Homo sapiens: one gene and its partners. The protein of the gene in region 1 purifies or fractionates together with the protein of each later gene. This does not show direct contact. Each region holds a gene or a part of one and is shown on either strand. Other genes may lie near its edges.

The links.
Region 2: the proteins of RAB3GAP2 (region 1) and UTP20 fractionate together in Homo sapiens (co-fractionation; one large-scale study listed by BioGRID). This does not show direct contact.
Region 3: the proteins of RAB3GAP2 (region 1) and RBM26 fractionate together in Homo sapiens (co-fractionation; one large-scale study listed by BioGRID). This does not show direct contact.
Region 4: the proteins of RAB3GAP2 (region 1) and PPP4R2 fractionate together in Homo sapiens (co-fractionation; one large-scale study listed by BioGRID). This does not show direct contact.
Region 5: the proteins of RAB3GAP2 (region 1) and FAM120A fractionate together in Homo sapiens (co-fractionation; one large-scale study listed by BioGRID). This does not show direct contact.
Region 6: the proteins of RAB3GAP2 (region 1) and UPF2 fractionate together in Homo sapiens (co-fractionation; one large-scale study listed by BioGRID). This does not show direct contact.

What each region holds. Positions count from the first base shown.
Region 1 is NC_000001.11:220,265,954-220,269,453, forward strand, and holds part of RAB3GAP2 (rab3 GTPase-activating protein non-catalytic subunit), read right to left. Parts: intron 1,763-3,500; exon of another isoform or gene 226-1,762; intron 1-225. UniProt on the Homo sapiens protein: Regulatory subunit of the Rab3 GTPase-activating (Rab3GAP) complex composed of RAB3GAP1 and RAB3GAP2, which has GTPase-activating protein (GAP) activity towards various Rab3 subfamily members (RAB3A, RAB3B, RAB3C and RAB3D), RAB5A and RAB43, and guanine nucleotide exchange factor (GEF) activity towards RAB18.
Region 2 is NC_000012.12:101,384,112-101,387,118, reverse strand, and holds the end of UTP20 (small subunit processome component 20 homolog), read right to left. Parts: intron 1,537-3,007; coding exon 1,391-1,536; intron 1,152-1,390; coding exon 996-1,151; 3' UTR 501-995; downstream 1-500. UniProt on the Homo sapiens protein: Part of the small subunit (SSU) processome, first precursor of the small eukaryotic ribosomal subunit.
Region 3 is NC_000013.11:79,368,256-79,371,755, forward strand, and holds part of RBM26 (RNA-binding protein 26), read right to left. Parts: intron 2,908-3,500; coding exon 2,690-2,907; intron 736-2,689; coding exon 475-735; intron 1-474. UniProt on the Homo sapiens protein: May be involved in the turnover of nuclear polyadenylated (pA+) RNA.
Region 4 is NC_000003.12:73,041,811-73,045,310, forward strand, and holds part of PPP4R2 (serine/threonine-protein phosphatase 4 regulatory subunit 2), read left to right. Parts: intron 1-3,500. UniProt on the Homo sapiens protein: Regulatory subunit of serine/threonine-protein phosphatase 4 (PP4). May regulate the activity of PPP4C at centrosomal microtubule organizing centers.
Region 5 is NC_000009.12:93,510,685-93,514,184, reverse strand, and holds part of FAM120A (constitutive coactivator of PPAR-gamma-like protein 1), read right to left. Parts: intron 1-3,500. UniProt on the Homo sapiens protein: Component of the oxidative stress-induced survival signaling. May regulate the activation of SRC family protein kinases. May act as a scaffolding protein enabling SRC family protein kinases to phosphorylate and activate PI3-kinase.
Region 6 is NC_000010.11:12,036,310-12,039,809, forward strand, and holds part of UPF2 (regulator of nonsense transcripts 2), read right to left. Parts: intron 1-3,500. UniProt on the Homo sapiens protein: Involved in nonsense-mediated decay (NMD) of mRNAs containing premature stop codons by associating with the nuclear exon junction complex (EJC).

The DNA of each region.
Region 1 (3,500 bases):
GCCACAAAGCAGTAAGACCAGACTTCATGTCTTAAGTAGATAGTATTTACTTTATAAAAACAAAATTTAACAGTTGTCATTAATGTAAACATTGGGAAAGGGTAGGGTTCAGCATCTTTTAAAGCTACAGAGGACAGTCTTCTTTTGTAATTAAATATACAAAGTAACATAAAGTCATACTTTGATAATTCAAATATAGAAGAGAGTGGTATCACTATATCTCTAGCAGCTGTCCACAGTAAAATAAAAGTACTTTTTTTTCTGTACAAATATCTTTATTTTCCTACTTAAAAAGAATCACGTACTCAGTCCAACAGCTTTACCAGGCTTGGCCAACCCAATAAGTTACACACTCACTCAGGTACTTGGAAGGTTATTGGACAGCTCCTTAACCGATCGAGTCAGCACAAAGTGGTCACTTTCCCCATAGCCAGACTCTGGATTTGCCTCCTGGGAGGACACCATGCCTGGCACAGACTGATGGGGTGGCTGCAGTCGAACCTTGCCTCCAGATTATGAACCAGTATAAGTAGCACAATTCTCGTGGCTACTTTCACTTCAGAGTGTCATGTTTATTGATGTGGAGCTTTCTGAGTAGGGAGGTTAAGGCACACCTGCTCAGTAAAACAAATATTTCTTTTAGTGTTCTAGATTGAGGGCAGCAGTCAATGGTAAAATAAATTTTGGTAGCATGTTCCTGAGAGGTTATACAGCAGCCCTGGCTCAAGGATTTCTCCCCCTGCACGATTCCTAAGAATACTTGCTAGTTGATTCTTTGTTTTGGCAATTTGATGGTTTTGATGAATTTGCTGTGATCCAGGGGTATTCAAGTACTTCTCTGAGCATTGGCCTCTGGCTGGGAACATGCTTCAACAGTCTTGAAATGAGGTCCCTGGCTCCCTCTGTTACAAAGTCAGGGAATGTGAATTCTCAACCCGTGATATTCTTTTGTAGGTCTCTTGGTATGTATTTGCCTCAAAAGGAGGCTTCCCAACTAAAAATTCACAGCAAAGAACTCCAAGGCTCCAGAGATCCACCTTCTCATCATGCATCCGACCTTCAATCATTTCGGGGGGCAGGTAGTCCAGGGTGCCACAGAGAGTGGTCCTCCTGGAAGATGGAGCATGTTCTGACCACCCAAAATTTGCAATTTCAAGCTCTCCAGCTGATCCAAGAAGTAAGTTCTCTGGCTTAATGTCTCTATGAATAACTGTTTTTGAATGACAGTAAGACAGGGCACTTGCCAATTCTGTGATATAAGTAGCAGTTCTCTGCTCATCAAACTTTGAAAGTTTCTGAAGTTCTGTATTGACTGTTTCAAGTGGTGTATATTCCAGAATTAGGTAGACTCTGGTGGCATCATGGAAATAACCATACAGTCTGATTATATTAGGATGTTGGAGGTGGGACTGTATTTCTACTTCTCTTCTGAGTTGATGCTCCACTCCTGCTTTCTCCAGCTGAGCTTTAAATAACACCCTAAGAGCCAGAATAAACTTGCTTTGTTTTTCTCTTGCCAAATAAACATTACCAAACTTTCCTTTACCCGGAGGGCGACCAATTTCAAGGTCTTCCAAAGCCCATTGCCTCTTTTTGATTCTTCATTTTTCTGTTTTGATGCCAGTTCCTCCTCAGGATTATTTTCAGGTGCCGACAGCGGGGACTGCTTGCTGTTTTGGGTGTTATTCAGTGGCCTGGAGGCAGGATGAGGTACACTGGTTGCCTGCAATTGCTTCTGCTTCTGATTCTGAACTGGCTTGTGACTGGAGACAAGCTTTTGTGCTTGCAAAGGAACACGCTGCGAAGAATTTGAAGGACACAAGACCCACTGAGCCTGGCCACTATTTGCAGGTAATGGATTCTGACAAGGAAATTGCTGAGTCACGAGAACATGTTCTGGACCTCCAACTGGAGTTTTAGCCTCAACAGGCCCTGAAATGCAGTTTTCTTCAGATTGGTCCGTGATGCCTATGACCCAAGGACCTGAGTCTTCCAAGAGCTCAGCCCAATAAAAGCACTTTTAAACCAACTGATACACCTCTATAATTCACAAGTAATTGAGGTGTTTTATGTTTTTACATATCCTCTAGAGATGAGCTAGGTTAAGAAATTACAACTATATCAGCTAAAAAAATTTAAGATGATCTCATGATTTCTGCTTCCCAATAAACATTTATAACATTAATAAATAAAGTGAAGAAAAGCAAAGGCAAATACCATCAGCAGTTTAAGTCAGGTCCTATTTACCTGCTCTGCTAATGTCATTTTTTCTCTGTAAAATTTCACTGTACAAAAGTTTACGTTCAAAACTCTTTATATTACGGCTTGGCCTAGACTATCTTAAAAGTGCTCAGAACACTTACATTAGCCTATAGTTGGGCAAAATCTTCTAACACAAAGTCTATTTTATCATGAAGGGTTGAAAATATCTCATGTAATTTCTTGAATACAGTACTTCTTGAATACCGTAGAGTACAGTCTCTCATATTTGCTGCTGCTACCCACCATCACAAAAGAGTATCTTACCCATTGTATCACTAGCTCTGGAAAAGATCAAAGTGCAAAATTTGAAGTATGGTTTCTACAAAGTACACATTGCTTTCACATTACTGTAAAGCTAAAAAATTGGAAGCCAAACCATCATAAGTCTGAGATCATCTGTACAGGTTTTACAAAGGGGCTCACTGGTGAAGAGGTCCATTCTGTTCATTTTCTACATGAACTGATCATAGCCACAATAATATCAACATACATAAACTCAAGAATTTGATTTAGAAGAGAAATACATTAAACCATATTTATAAATCTATAGGTATAGTGCAAATTAATCTAGATGTTTGGGGTGTATTTATATCCCCAACTGCCTATGTAACTTGGACAAGTATTCAATCTGTATGTACCTGAGTTTTAGCACCTATAACTGTGCCATACTATATTATAGGCATTAGCCACTTTGGCTACTTAAATTTAAATTAATTAAAATTAACTTGAATTTTAAAAATTCAGTTCCTCAGTTGCACTGGCCACATTTCACAGGCTCAATAACCACATGTGCCTAGAGGTTACCATACTGGACAGTAGAAATATAATGATGAAAATAAACAGGATGATATGATTGAGAACAACAAGTAGGAACAAGGGGGTTGTATTGACTACTTTAGATCTAGATCAGGTGGTCAGAAAAGGCTGCCCTGAGTTGACATTTGAGCTGAGACTTGAATGACAAGATGCAACTAGCATGCAAAGATCTGCAAAAAGCATCCAAGGCATAGACAACAGTGAGGGCAAAAACCTTAGCCACAAATGTGGTTGGCTGGTTTAACAACAAAAAAGAGCGTCTGAAGCATAAGAAATAAGGGGAGAGGTGTATAAGGTCCAAGAAATGGCAGGAAGCAGAGTCTCAAGGGCCTTATACACCATTTAAGAACTTTGGATTTTACGTTAAGTGCAATCAAAAACCATTGAGTGTTATTAAAAGGGCAATGTTAGGCTGGGTGTGG
Region 2 (3,007 bases), on another chromosome or scaffold:
CTAAGCAGAAGTTCTTAATGAAGTAGGATTTATTACACGTTCTCTCTATAGATAGTTTTTGTGTCTTACTTTTGATATCCAATAGGGCAAGCCCCTCATCCTGTTCTACTTTTGTGAGAGTGTCATGGTTATTCTTGGCTTAATATCATCTTCCATATACATTTTAGAATTAGCTTGTTGGGTTAACGTGAAGAACTCTTGGGATTTTGCTCAGATACACATTTAACCAAAGGATCAACTTGGGAAAAAGAAGTAGCGTTTTATGATCCTGAATCTTCCTAGCCAAGAACATGGTTATAGTTCCGTTTGTGCAGATCTTTCTTACTGCCTTTTCCTAAAATTTTAGCAAGTACTATAGAGCAGTATTTGCAAATCTTTTGTTTGATTAATTGCTAACTTCTACATTTTTTCTTGCTATTTAAAAATGTATCCTTTTATTTACAAATTATATTTTAAACTCTGACTAGTGTCACATGCTTTTTAAACAGTGAAGACCCAGCAGTAGTATAGTGTTTTATTTATTTAAAAAATATGAGCATGATTACATTAAACTATATATTATACAATCTATCCAAAGTTTAACTAACTTAAATAATAAAACCTGGTTGAGCAGGGTGGCTCACACCTGTAATCCCAGCACTTTGGGAGGCCGAGGCAGGCGGATCAGTTGAGCCCAGGTGTTCGAGACCAGCCTGGCCAACATGGCGAAATCCTGTTTCTACAAAAAATACAAAATACAAAAAATTTGCCGGGCATAGTGTTGTGTGCCTAGGAGGCACAACTACTTGGGAGGCTGAGGTGAGAGGATCACTTGAACCCAGGTTGAGGCTGCAGTGAGCTGTGATGTCGTCACTGCACTCCACCTTGGGTGACAGAGTGAGACCTTGTCTCAAAAAAAAAAAAAAACGCCTCCCCCCTACCCCAGACAACCTACTGTAATTTCAGACTAGCAGAATATTCCAGAAAGTTCATGCTTGTATCAGCACAGGGAGACATTACTCCACCATTGCTAAATCTTTCAGGCTATGGCTTTTTTGTCTCTTGGCCTTATATCCTGGACGCAGGAACTCTATCTTTCTCTTCTTTGCTTCACTTTTATTTTTGTGTTTCTTCATTTTTTTCTTGGCAGCAATATCAGGATTAGTTACAAACTGGAAAAGAGAATAGAAATTTTATATTACTTTTAAAGTAAATGTTAAACCAATAAGAATCAAATACAGAAATAAATGTAAAAAACACATGCTCATTAAAGAAAATCTGAAGTCCCAGCTATAAAGTCCCCAACCGCTCAAACCCTTGATCCTCCCTAAGTGTAAGTGTGACACAAACATGCACACTTAGTAGTTATCAAGTCCAGTGAACATGCCATATTTTCAAAGAGCAAACTTACCTCCAGGGCCTTCCTCTTTTTCCGGAGTGCCCTTTTCTCATTAGCCTGTTTCTGTACAGAGGCAAAGGCTAATGAGAAGCTCTCAAGCCCAACCAGCTTTTTGAGTAATTCTATGATTTCCTGGGATAGATTCTTCAGCAAAGGATCTAATCACACACAAAGAGTAATGATCAGAGACAGGTAGGAAAGGACACATTTGAACATCAACAAAATCAACAATATGTACAACATTTATATCCAGCTACTGATCTGGCAAGAAACCCCAAATAAAACAAAACAAAATTTCAACTCTTGCAGCATTATCACTGTTACTTCAACATTAAACACTGATATAAAACTAGCCTCTATGTTCCTGGGATGGGGAAACCAGCAATGCTAGACATAGCACTCCAGCCACCACCTCACCCAGGATGCAATAAGAAATCAGAGAACATGAGGCCCACTTCCCAGCGGAAACCTGGCCCTGAAGACATTAAAGTAACTTGGGACCTTGACAGAAACGTTTTGAATTACCTCTGTTTACCTGTTGAGCTCTTGCAGATGGGGGGAAAAGTAAGAGATTCCCTCTCTAATCCATGATGGGTCACAGAGGCTTAGCTCTGCCCACAGTAACTTTTTTTTTTTTTTTTTTGGCGGGGGAGTGTCAAAAGCCTCCTTTGTGAAGTTGACAAAAAAGCCATTTCTCCCACCCTTCTCTGCCACTCACCCCTATATACAAATAACCCCCAATTTCAATTTCACAGGAGCTCAGGACATCTGTTCTAGATCACAAGCTTCTTGAAAACTTTCCTGCTGTTGAATCCCTAGTGCCTGGCAGATATTAGATGCTCATTAAATGTTGACTGGGTTGAACCAAAGCACACCTGAACCTGCTTTTGTCAGCAGCCTCAACCTTTACCATTGCTTTTTCCTTTGTAAGAGTGAGGAAACTTTCTCCCAAGGTTGTAGGACTGTAAAAGCTCTTGCTTTGACATTTGCTTCATTTGTTTTATTTTCAAACTCTGAACATTCACTTTACCTCCTTTCCTTCCTGCCCCCAGTTCCCTCTTTACCTGTTATTACCAACAATTAGAATAAGTGAGGGAAATGTATCAGGCAAGGAAAAAGAAGAAATGTTAAAATGATATTTTAAAACTATTTCATATAAAAATGATAATACTTATATTTTTGCCATATAATCTTTCTTTTGAGACAGTATCTCACTCTGTTGCCCAAGCAGGAGTGCAGTGGTGCAATCACGGCTCACTGAAGCCTCGACCTCACAGCCTCAAGAGATCCCCCCACCTCAGCCTCCTAAGTAGCTGCAATTATAGTTGTGCACCACCACACCCAGCTAATTTTTGTATCTTTTGTAGAGATGGGGTTTTGCCATGTTGCCCAGGCTGGTCTTGAACTTCTGGGCTCAAGTGATCCTCCCAACTTGGCTTCCCAAAGTGTGGGATTACAGGCGTGAGCCACTACGCCCAGCCTATAATTTTTAAGATGAGAATGTAATGACATTTTATTATTCATTATTATTCATTGTGCTATGAGGTTTAAAACTACCCTGAACCATAGTTTTCTTTGACTATTTAATCTATGTTGAGGATAAAGCATCATCTTTTATGTGAGAAACAT
Region 3 (3,500 bases), on another chromosome or scaffold:
GACCTCATGATCCACCCACCTCAACCTCCTAAAGTGCTGGGATTACAGGCGTGAGCCGCTGCGCCCAGCCAAAAGTCTTTAATTCTTTAATAAAATTCTTACAAAGGTGACATTTACATTTCTAGATACATTTCTATTTACAGTCCAATAATCACTCATTCTAAAGAAATGAGTTTTGTCAATAATGTTTCAGTAGCAGATTCCCTGATAAAAACTCAGTAGATATTTACTCATTTGGTAAACTCCCACAATTTATTAAGACTTACTTGCAAATAAATACTACCTTTAAATTGATAATCAAATTAGTGGCAACTAATAAATGTTTCAATCATATTGAGGAATTCAAAAAGTGACTAAGGCTAATTTCCCACTTTTCAGAGGTAAGTCTTTGAATAACTATGTACAACATAAACACAGAATTTAGGCAGCTGGAAATATTAATTAAATACTTTATCAAACAGCTGAAAGACTTACCATCATAGTCTCTACACCGTTTCTTTGGCATGGGTGGTCTTACGTAAGAGTTATGGTCCACTTGGTCTTCATGAAATTCAGACCAACTTTCGGTAGTGTTGTTTCCATGATGAGTAGGAGCAATTACTGTAATAGTGCTGCTCAAAGTAGGTACAGGGTAGTGGCCAGATGAAATACTAGGTACCGAAGAGACTGGAGTATAATTATTTTCTAATGGATCTGTTCTATCCAGGTCATATTTAGGTTTTACCAGATCCCTTTCTGCAACGAAAGATAAATGACATATAAAACTACACTGTATTAAAAAAAAAAAAGTCCCAGATCTAAGAAATAGTGATATTTTTATAAACATAGAAAAAAAATTTTAAATTTTGCATAATAATCATTTTCTTTTAAAAAATATTCAATTAATATACAATGTTAAAAGGTAAGCGATTTCTTTTTAATATAACCCAAACTACAAAACCAGGTAATGCTGCCATATTTAATGTTTTTCCTTAGAGTTTTGTTTATAGAAAAAAGGAATTTTATATTTTCTTCATCACAATCTTGGTATGCATAATTACAGACCACAAAACAAAACATGCAATAAAGTATGGTTATTTTTCCTGTGATGAACATTTTGTAGTCATCCATTTAAAGTTACTACAATGGCTGTTATATTAAGATAAGAACGGATGACCCAGAAAGAGTTCATATTAAACATGCACAAAGAAATTAACTAGACTATACATATGGTCCTCAGGAAACAGAAAAGAAATTAAAGAGATTAGTTAAGTGAAGTAACATTCCATGAAGCCTTGTATACCTAGATCACAGCAGGGGAAAATTTCTAAGAAAAGAGTAACAGAATACAGGGCTTATACAAAGGCCATAAATAGTATTAAGAGTAGCAAAAAAAGTTTGAGAAAAGGTGCTTTACTGAAAAGTGTTTTAGGTGTTTTACGACAACATCTTACTTTCAATAACATGTACTAGAAGAAAATTATACATGTTGGGAATGACACGCTCTTGCAAAAATATATATCTGAAATAAAACTTTTTAAACTTTTAAAAATAGTTTTGAAGTATAACTGATATATAATAAACTGAACATATTTAAACTGTATAAGTTTTAATCAAGATATAACACCTCTGAAACCAATACCACAAATAAATGATGTACATATTCATCACTTCCAAAAGAATCCTCATGCCCCTTTGTAATCTGTAATCTATCATCCCTCCTTTACTCCATTTCAGGCAACGACTGGCTTTGCTCTCTGTCATCACAGATTAGTTTGCATTTTTAAAAACTAGTCTGGGCACAGTGGCTCAGGCCTATAATCCCAGCACTTTGGGAGGCTGAGGCGGGTGGATCACCTGAGGTCAGGAATTCGAGACCAGTCTGGCCAACCTGGTGAAACCCCCAACGTGACTCTACCAAAAATACAAAAATTAGCCGAGCATGGTGGCACTTGCCTGTAATCCCAGCTACTTGGGAGGCTGAGGCATGATCATCGCTTGAACTCAGGAGGCGGAGGTTGCAATGAGCTGAAACAGCACCACTGCACTCCAGCCTGGGCGACAGAGCAATACTCTGTCACAAAAACAAAGATTAAGAAAAAAAATTTTTTAACATACATATGTATTGTCCTGCTTCTTTCACTCAGCATAATTATACTGAGATTCATCCATTTTGTTGCATGTATCAATAGTTCTTTTCTTTTTATCCATGTTATGGTATGGATATACCACAACATGTTTATACATTCACCTCTTGATGGACATTTAGGCTGTTTCTAGATCTGGCTCTTACAAATAAGTCTGCTATGAACCTTTGTGAACAAACACCTGTGTGGACATACACTTTCATTTCTTCCAGGTAAACAGTAAGAAGTAGAATAGCGGACCCATATGCTAAGTGTAGTTTTAATATTTTTACATACTGCCAAAATGTTTTCCAAAGAGTTTCAGCTTATCTACTTTCTCACCAACATGGAATAGAATCAGTCTGTATCATCGTGGCTATCCTGTTGAATGTGTAGTGGTAACTGTGATTTTAATTTGCAAGGAATAAAACTTTTAAAGGAATTTTTAAAAAGCATTCTCTTGGACCACAGAATACATCATAATAGAAAAAAATGAAGACAACACTGACAAAATGTTAAGCAATTTTTAAAAACATTTAAACATGGAGTTTTTCATAAAAAGATAACCAAAATATATTATTTACCCCTGCTTCGTGTTCTGCTTCTGCTTCTAGTCCTGCTTCTATCTCTGTCCCTCTCACGAAGCCTCTCTTTACTCCAACTTCGACTTCGACTCCTGCTATAACTGCGACTCCGCCCTCGTCTTCTATTGTACCGGTCTCTGTATGAATCTCTTCGAGGAGGGTTTCGATCATAATCTCTTTTGCGAGAACGATCATCTTTTTTCCTCTCATCACGGCTTCTAAAGAAATATGTGATCACTTTAATACAAATAATTTTTAAGTGACACAGGAAAAAGCTAATTAAATGCAAAAGTTACATTTAATTCTTGTAACTTAACTTTCTATCCTACCATCAGACAACTGAAAAAACTGAGCTTAATATTCAGTACTTTAAATCCCTTTTAAATGAAAAACAATCTTTTTAAAGCCTTAACCCTTAGTCTTATTACACATTGGCAACTATACAATTAGGCATCTGTAGATAAAGGCATCTGTATATAAGACTTAGAGTACATATAGAACATACTATCCCGTACATATAATCTCACTTACAGACATGTATCACATGCATTGTATTCTAAGTGCTTTTGAAGCCTGAATGAGAAAAACAATTTAATCACACTAAATGGAAACAGCAGGCAAAAAAAAAACACCCACACATTAAGATTCTACTGGAATCTGAAGTTAGGAATAAAAAGATAAGCAGCTAATATATGTCAAGCACTGTTCTAAACTCACTCCCAAGATCTACAAATCTGACCTAGATTTTCATGGTAGAAACGGACCTAGTTATATTTTCCTAGACCAATAAAAGAGTAGATATTACTTGCCT
Region 4 (3,500 bases), on another chromosome or scaffold:
CTTGGGAAAAGAAAAGATGGATTTTCTGTCCTTAAGCCTCTGGAAAATACCTTTAGCCTTTAGAGAATTGTGAGAGAAACATGTTTGAATATGAACTTGTGAGTTCCTATGGAGAAAAAAGGTCAATGTAAAATCTAGCACCAGGATATATTTATTAGAGATATGAATTGTACTTTCCTACAGGAGAAACTGCAAAAATGGGAAAATGGAAGGGGAGAAGAAAAAGGAAGTGAAGGGAGGTGAAGCTACTTAGTTAATGGTGATTAATTTCAGTACATTATTGAGTTAATTTCAGTAAAGTAGATTTAAATTTTGAGTATGTATTTTATTGGAGGGGATTTTATGTGGAGAAATTTGTTCTGAAGTTGAAAATGTGTTTATGTCTTATGAGCATCTTTTTAGAATAATTTGATTTTCATATTGAAAGCCAAGGGTTTTTTTGTTCTCATTTCTACTCATCCAGTGAGTGTACATTCCTAAGAAATTGTTTTTGTTGCCAAGTTTTTAGTTGATTTGCGCATGGCCTGTTTTTTGTGCCTGAATATAATTTCTTTTTTTTTTTTTTTTTTTTTGAGATGGAGTCTCGCTGTGTCACCCAGGCTGGAGTGCGGTGCTGCAATCTTGGCTCACTGCAACCTCCGCCTCCTGGGTTCAAACAATTCTCCTGTCTCAGCCTCCCGAGTAGCTGGGAATACAGGTTTGTGCCACCACACCCAGCTAATTTTTGTATTTTTAGTAGAGACAGGATTTCACCATGTTGGCCAGGATGGTCTTGGTCTCTTGACCTTGTGATAAGCCCGCCTCGGCCTCCCAAAGTGCTGGGATTACATCCGTGAGCCACCGCGCCTGGCCCCTGAATTATATAACTTTTAGGGAAGCATTTTCTGTTTTTGTTTTTATCAAATAGTTGTCCTCCATCAAAAAGCTGTATCTTTCACATTTTATGAATGCCCTCCCCATATATATATGTGGAATAGTATCACTTGAATTGCATCGTATTGATCTAATTTAGAGTAACTGCTTGATTTATTTGAAAGTTAAGACTACAGTGTGTTCATAATTCATGTCAATTTATGGGGCTTAATTTCTGTCTCATGAGTTAGTGCCATAGAGTCTTTGAATCTCTTCAGAATTTCCATTACCTGGGATCCCATACCTCTTGTCTGGCTGTTCCCATTAATGTGCTTTTTTTGGACCGCAAACATGTCATGTCAGATGGTTAATGGAAAGATGAGATTAAAACACACCACAAGACTCTGTGCATATGGAAATCTGAACTCACGCTATGAATTGGTGATTATTAAAAGCACAAAAAATTATTAATTTAAGAAATGAAAAGTATAAGCGTCCTATTTCAGTATAACTTGCCCTGGTATGTTTAAGTATGAAGTGCATGTGGAGAGTCTCATAAAATTTAAAGATAAATTTTAGGAACCAAAAGCAATTGTACATTAATAAGGATTAATATTAGGCATATCAAAAATTCTGTGAAATTAAAAATTAAAAATTCTGCTTGTTAAACCTCAAATTCCCCTTTCTAAAATAGGATAGGGAAAGGTGGAAAAAACTAATCATGCAAATAGCTTTTAATTATCCTCACCATTTTTAAAAGTAATAGCATACTTTTAAAATACATAATTCACTCATTTAATAGAATGGAATTGTTGGATTACAAATCTGCATTTACCTTTCTGAGGAACTGCCCAAGTACTTTCCAAAGCAACTACACCATTTTACTTTCCCACCAGTAATGTATGACATTACCAGTTTCCCCACATCAACCCAGCACTCGTTCATTATTCATCTTTTTGATTATAGCCACCCTAGTGGGTGTGAAATGGGTGGTTTTGATTTGCATTTCTCTAATAGATAATAATGCTGAGCATCTTTTCATATGCTTATTGGCCATTTGTGTATCTTCTTTGTGGGGAAATACCTATTGAAATATACCTAATGTAAACCTTACCATTTTAACTATTTGAAGTGTACAATTTATTGCCAGTAAGTACACTCACGATGTATGTTACCATCACTATCATCCATCTGCAGAACTTTTCATTTACACAAACTTGAAACATTGTACACATTAAAGAATAAGTCCCTTCACCTTCCTCCCCACAGTTCCAGACGACTCTAAATTGACTATTCTTGATAGCTCATATAAGTGGAATCATACAATAGTCGTTCTTTTTGTGTCTGGCTTATTTCACTTTGCATAATGCCATCAAGCTTAATCCATGTCAGAATTTCTTTCAGATTAAAGACTGGATAATATTCGTGTGTGTGTGTGTGTTTATCTCTCACATTTTGCTTATCCATTCATGTGCTGTTGGCACATTTGGGTTGTTTTCACCTTTTGGGGATCTATGGAGAAATGGGATTCCTGAATCATAGGGTGGTTTCATAATTTTTGTTGTTGTTGTTGTTGTTGTTTTTGGAGCAACCAAACTGCTTTCCACAGTGACTGCATTGTTCCTACCAGCAATGCACAAGAGTTTTGGTTTCTTGGCTGGGGGCAGTGGCTCACGCACTTTGGGAGGCTGAGGTGGGCTGATCACGAGGTCAGGAGTTCGAGACCAGCCTGGCCAACATGGTGAAACCCCGTCTCTACTAAAAATACAAAAAGTTAGCTGGACGTAGTGGTAGGCACCTGTAATCCTAGCTACTTGGGAGGCTGAAGCAGGAGAATTGCTTGAACCCAGGAGGCAGAGGTTGCAGTGAGCCGAGGTTGCACCACCACTCTCCAGCCCTGGCAACGGAGTGACACTGTCTCAGAAAGGAAAGTTTCAGTTTCTCTACATCCTTGGCCAGCCAATACTTGTTCACTTGTTTTTTAGATAATAGCCAACCCTAATGGGTGTAAAGTGGTATTGTGATTTGGATTTACATTTCCCCAAGATTAATGGTGTTAAGCATCTTGTGTGTTTGCTATTTGTATATCTTCTTTGGAGAAGTGCGTATTTAAGTACTTTGCCCATTTTTAAATTGGGTCATCTTTTTTGTTAAGTTGTAGGTGTTCTTTATATAATCTGGATATTAACCCCTTATCAGATAAAAGATTTGCAAATATTTTCTCCCATTTCACGATTTGACTTTCTGCTCTGTTGATAGTGTCCTTTGATGCACAAAATTTTAAATTTTGATGTAATTCAATTTATCAATTTTGTTGCTTGTGCTTTTGGTATCACACAGTATCTTTAAGAGACAGGGTCTTGCTCTGTCGCTCAGGCTGGATTCCAGTGGTGTGATCTTGGCTTACTGCAGCCTCTACCTCCTGGGCTCAAGCAATCCTGTTGCCTCGGCCTCTTGAGTAGCTGGGACTACAGGTGCATACCACCATGCCTAATTTAAATTAATTAGTAATTAATTATTTTGTAGAGACGGAGTATTGCTGTTTGCCCAGGCTGGCTTCCAACTCCTGGGCCCAAGTGATCTTCCTGTCTCGGCTTCCCAAAGTGCTGGGATTACAGGCGTGAGCCACCACACCTGGCCTCGTATAA
Region 5 (3,500 bases), on another chromosome or scaffold:
GGCTCTTCCCCCTTCACTCGACACTTCTTACCGCTGCCTTGTTAAGAAGGTGCCTTGCTTCCCCTTCAACTTCTGCCATGATGCTAAGTTTCCTGAGGCCTCCCCAGCCATGCTGAACTGTGAGTCAATTAAACCTCTTTCCTTCATAAATTATCCAGTCTCAGGCAGTTCTTTATAGCAGTATGAAATCAGAGGAAAACACCAGGCAAGGGGAACACAACCCAAGAACCACCACCTCTCACACTGCCTACTGCCAATATAGGTAAGGACAGAAACATTCCCCAAACCTTCACTCTCGTTCTCTGAAAAGCAAATGTCCATGGCTGCATTCACAAGAGGTTCCCTAAGCCAACACTGGGCGTGGTGAGACCAGGAGTGCAAACGCTGTCCTTGGTCCGGCCTCCTGAGAGCCAAGCATGGTCAACAGACGCTGGGAGTGAAGCACAGATCATTGTTGACTCCCCCCAGAGAACGACCAGGAATCTTACAGACTACAATTTATCTGAGGTTCCTGCCTTCCAAGGGCCTTCAGCTCGCAAGCTTTAAACACCATAGCCCTTCGATCCTGGCTCGCATCAAGAAAAAACCTTGGCAGAGCTTCCACCTTTGTACCAAACAAAAACAACTGCAGTATGAGAAGCTGGGAATAATGAGACTGGCATGTGTGTAGTCACAGACACCTCACACTTGCATGCAACACGCACATAGACACACGTGCACACAACACATTCCTAACTGACCGATAAGTCCACAAGTCCGTGCCTCTAAGGGATGTGTGTGCATGATCAAGTGGTCACTCACACACAGGCGTAGATACACACAGAAGTGCACACAAACACACCCCACACGTGCATGCATGGCGCACACACACGCATGGCACAGACAATACAAGGAGCTGTTCCTAAAACAGTATGTTGGCTAGATCTGCACCTCCACGTGTGCGATCAAAGTCGCTATTATTTTAAAAAACTGTTCACAGGTGATTCTGATAGGCAGGTTTGGTCCAAAGAATATTATAAAATCTATTCAAGCTCCAACCATATAATTTAAATCAATGTAAAATGTCTAGTGTATAATATCTTGTGGCTGACCTCACTTACCTAACTTTGGAATAATACAAATCTAAGGCTAGACTCATGTAGCACCCGCATTCAAGTGAAGATGATCATTTTTGTTTTTTGATTTTTGGCCATTTCATCCTAAAACCTTCCTTGAAAGCACAAACTTTCCTTTAAAGCAAACAAACAAACTACATTACAGCATAAAACCAAAGAATTCCAAGGAAAGAATATTTTCTAAAATCACATTCCAATCATTGACCTCAAATAATCCTCTGTGAATCCACAGAGCAAGCCACTATTCTATTAAAGCAGTCCAATAAGTGAATTAATTTGTCTGCATTTTCTGAAGGCTGCAGAAGTGCCTCCTAACCCAGGGTCTCCCTCTGCGGATTCAGGCCTTCGTCTATATCGGTTCTTGTTCTCCATGCCCAAGTGCAGCTGAGCAGAACCACTGTGTGTCCTCTCTACAACAAGAGGCATCTTTCTCAGAAGGGACACGGGGCTCCAGAGTAGAGGTCACACCACCAGTTTCTCACTCTCTTCCTTTCACACTTACTAGAGAGGTGGGCTTTCGGTAAAAAAAAAAATATGCAGACTGAAGACAAGAAGCAAAAGAAGAAAAAAAGGCCAAAAAAGTTTACTATATTTCAAAATATTTCGTAACTTTAAAAATAGTTTTTAAATAGTGAGAAGTTCTTTCAGAATGAAAAGAGACATGCACTGCAATCCCTCGGCTGTATGATCTTGACTTGTTACAGCTCAGTCACCTACTTCCTCAAAGGACTCACTTACGCCTATATGCAGCTGTGTGGCTTTTGCTCTGAATTAAAATACGGTAAAATTCTTTAAAGAAATGGTGTTAAACTGGAACCTCTTCTTAGAACTACAGTCGGCCTTACCCCAGTCCCCATTCCTAGCCCAACCTAACAAATGTTCCTCTATTACTTGGCATATGATCCTGAAATGTTAAACAAAACAAAGAGTAACAAAGTTAAGTCTTAAAAAACAAAAAACAAAACAAAACAAAAAACTGGCCTGGTTCAGTGGCTCATGCCTGTAATCCCACCACTTTGGGAGGCCAAGGCAGGCGAATCACTTGAGGTCAGGAGTTCAAGATCAGCCTGACCAACATGGCGAAAGCCCGTCTCTACTAAAAATAAAAAAATTAGCCAGGCATGGTGGCAGGCGCCTATAACCCCAGCTACTCGGGAGGCAGAGGCTGAAAATCGCTTGAACCCTGGAGGCAGAGGCTGTAATCAGCAGAGATCGTGCCACTGCACTCTGGCCTGGGTGACAGAATGAGACTCCATCTCATAAATAAATAAATAAACAGGCAGACATTGTATGATTTTCAAGTATCACCCAAAAAATATAGCTTTGAAGATGTCGAGTCCAAGATTAAACAAATCAATATAATCCCTACCACCTTTAATTTTCATCGCTTGCAAACACAGACAAGGCAAAACATTCCAACCATTTTAAGCATGTGCAAACAGACATGTTTACTAAATCTCAATAGTCTACAGAAGATAAAAAGTTATAGAAAGGAAACTGTCATGTGACCTGTTCCCGTTACACTACAGATCCAGTGTCCAGAGAGGCAGGGTGGGGCCTTGGAGCACAGTGGGAGGGCGCGGCGTCTGGCCATCCTATAGGGAGAGGAGGCCCCACAGAGCCGGTCAGGCTGGCCAAGCCTGGACTGAGACCAGGTGCAATGTCAGTGCCCAGGGAGGCAAAGGATGGAGGAGCAACTCCCAAGAGCTAAGAGCCTGGGAGCAGCTGATGCTGGCCCAAAGCCTGCGGTGTTGGCCAGACCCCAAGGGAAGAGCCAGAGGCCGGCGCCCAGAAGAGGAGGCCTGGTGACAGAAGGAGGCAAAACCTGAGGCATGATCAGCTTGAAGAAGGCTAAGTACAAGGCCCATGAGAAGTAAGATTATGAACTCAGTGAACAGGCACATCCTGCGTGGCACGTGAAAGAATTCGGAACAGCGGGAAAAATTAAACCACGGAAGCAAATTTCAAGTCAACAGAAACAAGAACTTTCTAAGAATGAGAGCAGTTCAACAATGAAAAGGGTTGCTTTACTGACTGCTGGACTGCTCATACAAGAACATTCTACAGCAGGGAGCTGGGCTGAACTTCTATAAACATTCCTCACTCCCCAAATCCTTTCCATCCCTGAATGTGGATAGTGAGAGGGTAGACATCACGAGATACGGCATCATTCGAATCTACCCAGTGCCCCAGTCTCAAGTAGCAAGTTTTATCTAAATGTATTCAGTTCCTGGGTTTAATTAATCAGTTTGAACAGAATACTTGTACTGACTGAGCAAAGTTCAAGAAGGCAGAATAGGAACATTACATCTCATCAAGGCTGGTTACGGTGGCTCATGACTACAATCCCGACACTGGGGGCTGAGGCAGTTCAGACCAGGCCAG
Region 6 (3,500 bases), on another chromosome or scaffold:
ATAACTCCAGACATTGCTAAATATCCGTCGGAGAAAAAATTATCACCCAAAAACTGCTGCACTAGTCATATGTGGTTACTTAAATGTAAATTAATTAAAATTAAATAAAATTTGAAATTCAGTTCTTCAGTCAGTATCTGTATTTCAAGTGCTCAATTCCACATGTGACTAATGGCTTCCATACACAGCAGGGCAGATACAGAACATTTCCACAGAAAGTTCTATTGGATAGCATTGGCCTATAGTACAGGCTTATAGTTAACTGAAAGTAACTGTGGAACAAAAAACTATACTTTGCAGGAAAATTCTGAATTTTTCTTTTCTAAAAATATATTTCTCTACTCAGAACTAGTTGTCTAATTTCTTTTAGGCATGGTGTTTCACGTTTTAACTCCTAAATTATCTAAGAGTTGTATATAAGAAAATCAAAATTCGGCCAAGCACAGTGGCTCATGCCTATAATCTCAGCACTTTGGAAGGCCAAGGCAGGCAGATTACCTGAAGTCGAGAGTTCGAGACCAACCTGACTAACATGGAGAAATCTCGTCTCTACTAAAAATATAAAATTAGACGGGTATGGTGGCGCATGCCTGTAATCCCAGCTACTCGGGAGGCTGAGGCAGGAGAATGGCTTGAACCCGGGAAGCGGAGGTTGTAATGAGCCAAGATCACGCCATTGGACTCCAGCCTGGGCAACAAGGACAAAACTCCGCCTCAAGAAAAAAAAGAAAATCAAAATTCTATTTTAGAGGTAGAAAATTACCTAAATTTCTTAGTTTTATGTTTTCTTTTTGAAACAGGGTCTCACTTTGTCGCCCAGGCTGGAGTGCAGTGGCACAATCACAGCTCACTGAAGTCTCGACCTCGCAGGCTCAAGTGACCCACCTGCCTCAGCCCCCCAAGTAGCTGGAACAGTAGGTGCTCAACACCACATCCAGGTAATTGTATTTTTAGTAGAGATGGGATTTCCCCATGTTGACTAGGCTGGTCTCGAAATCCTGAGTTTAAGTGATCCATCCACCTGGGCCTCCCAAAGTGCTGGGATTACAGGTATGAGCCACTGTGTTTTTGAGCTTTAGTGTTTTTGTTTTTCTTTTTTTTTTTTTTTTTGAGTCTCGCTCTGTTGCCTAGGCTGGAGTGCAGTGGTGTGATCTCGGCTCACTGCAACCTCCACCTTCCGGGTTTAAGTGAACCTCCCACCTCAGCCTCCCAAGTACCTGAGATTATAAGTGTGTGCCATCACACTCAGCTAATTTTTGTATTTTTAGTAAAGATGGGTTTCACCATATTGGCCAGGCTGCTTGAATTCTTGACCTCAAGTGATCCATCTGACTTGGCCTCCCAAAGTGCAGGATTACAAGCATGAGCCACAGTGCCCGGCCAGCCCTTCGTTTTTTTTTATTAAAAGCAATAGTATCCTTAAATATTTTCAAATATAGGTTTTAAATTACAGCACTTAAAACTAGGTTACCAAAAAAAGCATTTGTAATATTGATATTTTTTAAATACAAAAATACTTTACTTCAGTACTCTATTAAAATGTTAATTTCACAGAAAGCAACCTAGACCAACAGAAACACTTTAATTTTTGCAGGTACATGCCACAGCCTGTACCTTCTCATAACTACCTTTTTCCTTCTCCTTTTTCTTTTACTCCCTCATTGCTCTCCACTCCCTTGTTCTATGCATTTATTTTGACAGTGACACCTAATAGCTGTAGTTAACCCCACTGGTAAAACTCACAACAACAACAAAAAAGCTATTGGGCCTATTTTTAAAATCGTCATTAGGGGCTGGGTGCGGTGGCTCATGCCTGTAATCCCAGCAATTTGGGAGGCCAAGGTGGGCGGATCACCTGAAGTCAGGAGTTTGAGTCCAGCCTGGCCAACATGGTGAAACCCCATCTCTACTGAAAATACAAAAATTAGCTGGGCGTGGTAGCAGGCGCCTGTAATCCCAGCTACTGGGGAGGCTGAGGCAGAACTGCTTGAACCCAGAAAGCAGAGGTTGCAGTGAGCCAAGATCATGCCACTGCACTCCAGCATGGGCGACAGAGTGAGACTCCATCTCACACACACACACACACACACACACACACACACACACACACAAATTACCTTTAATATATGAAAAAGCAGGCTGGGCACCATGGCTCACTCCTGTAATCCCAGCACTTTGGGAAGCCAAGGCAGGCAGATCACTTGAGGTCATGAGTTCAAGACCAGCCTGGCCAACATGTGGAAGCCCCGTCTCTACTAAATATACAAAAATTAAACAGGCATGGTGGAGGGTGCCTGTAATCCCAGCTACTCGGGAGGCTGAAGCAAGAGAATCGCTTGAACCCGGGAGGCGGAGGCTGCAGTAAGCCGAGATAGCGCCACTGCACTCCAGTCTGGGCAAAAGACGGAGACTCCGTCTCAAAAATACAAAAAAAAACAACAACAACAACAAAAGAAAAAGCATTTCTATGCCAAGACAACATTAGCATTTATATTATCTATTTTTTTAATTTAAAAAAAAACTGTTTTAATAAAATAGAGACAAGGTCTCAGTACGTTGCCCTGGCTGGTCTCACACTCCCGGGCTCAAGGGATCCATCCTCCCGCCTCGGCCTTCCAAAGTGCTAGGATTACAGGTATAAGCCACTATACCCGGGCAGCATTTCTATTATCTAGAAGTGTAGTTATTGATTCTTATACATTTTCAATTAAATATCCAACTTTAATGTGAAAACATCACGCCCTTAAAGCAAGCAAACTTTCAAAAAGACTATAATACTAATACACTACTCATGGTACCATACTAAACATTTTACGTATATTATCTCATTTAATACTAAAATCTTTATGAGGTGGGTATTATTTTCCCTATTTTATAAATGAGTAAACTGAGACTTGACCAAGTAACTTGACCAAGGCCTGCACAGCTGGTGACAGAATGGGAATCTGAACCCATTCTCTGAACCAAAGAATCCTAAGAGTACCAAATTGTGAGATGGGAGACATGCTGGTAAATACTGACTATAGCAACCCACAGAATTATGAATCTCAAGAGTAGAAAGAATCCTTCATAATGGTTAAGGAGTTCTCATGTAATGTTTTTAACTTTTAGCAGACTCTGGCTGAAACATATGGGGACAATTTAATATCTAAGGTAATAACATGATCTTATTGAAGGATATTAATCATTAAGTGAAAAAAGTTTATATAGATTTCACATTTTCTGATGTGACGCATCAACAAGTAACATTTCAGGACCACAGGACACTACAAAGAATGGCATCAGAACTTACAATTATGTCTCTCTCTCTCTCTTTTTTTTTTTTTTTTTGAGATGGAGTCTCACTCTGTCGCCAGGCTGGAGTGCAGTGGCACGATCTCGGCTCACCACAACCTCTGCCACCCGGGTTCAAGTCATTCTCCTGCCTCAGCCTCCCGAGTAGCTGGGATTACAGGCATGTGCCACCATGCCCGGCTAATTTTGTATTTTTAGTAGAGATG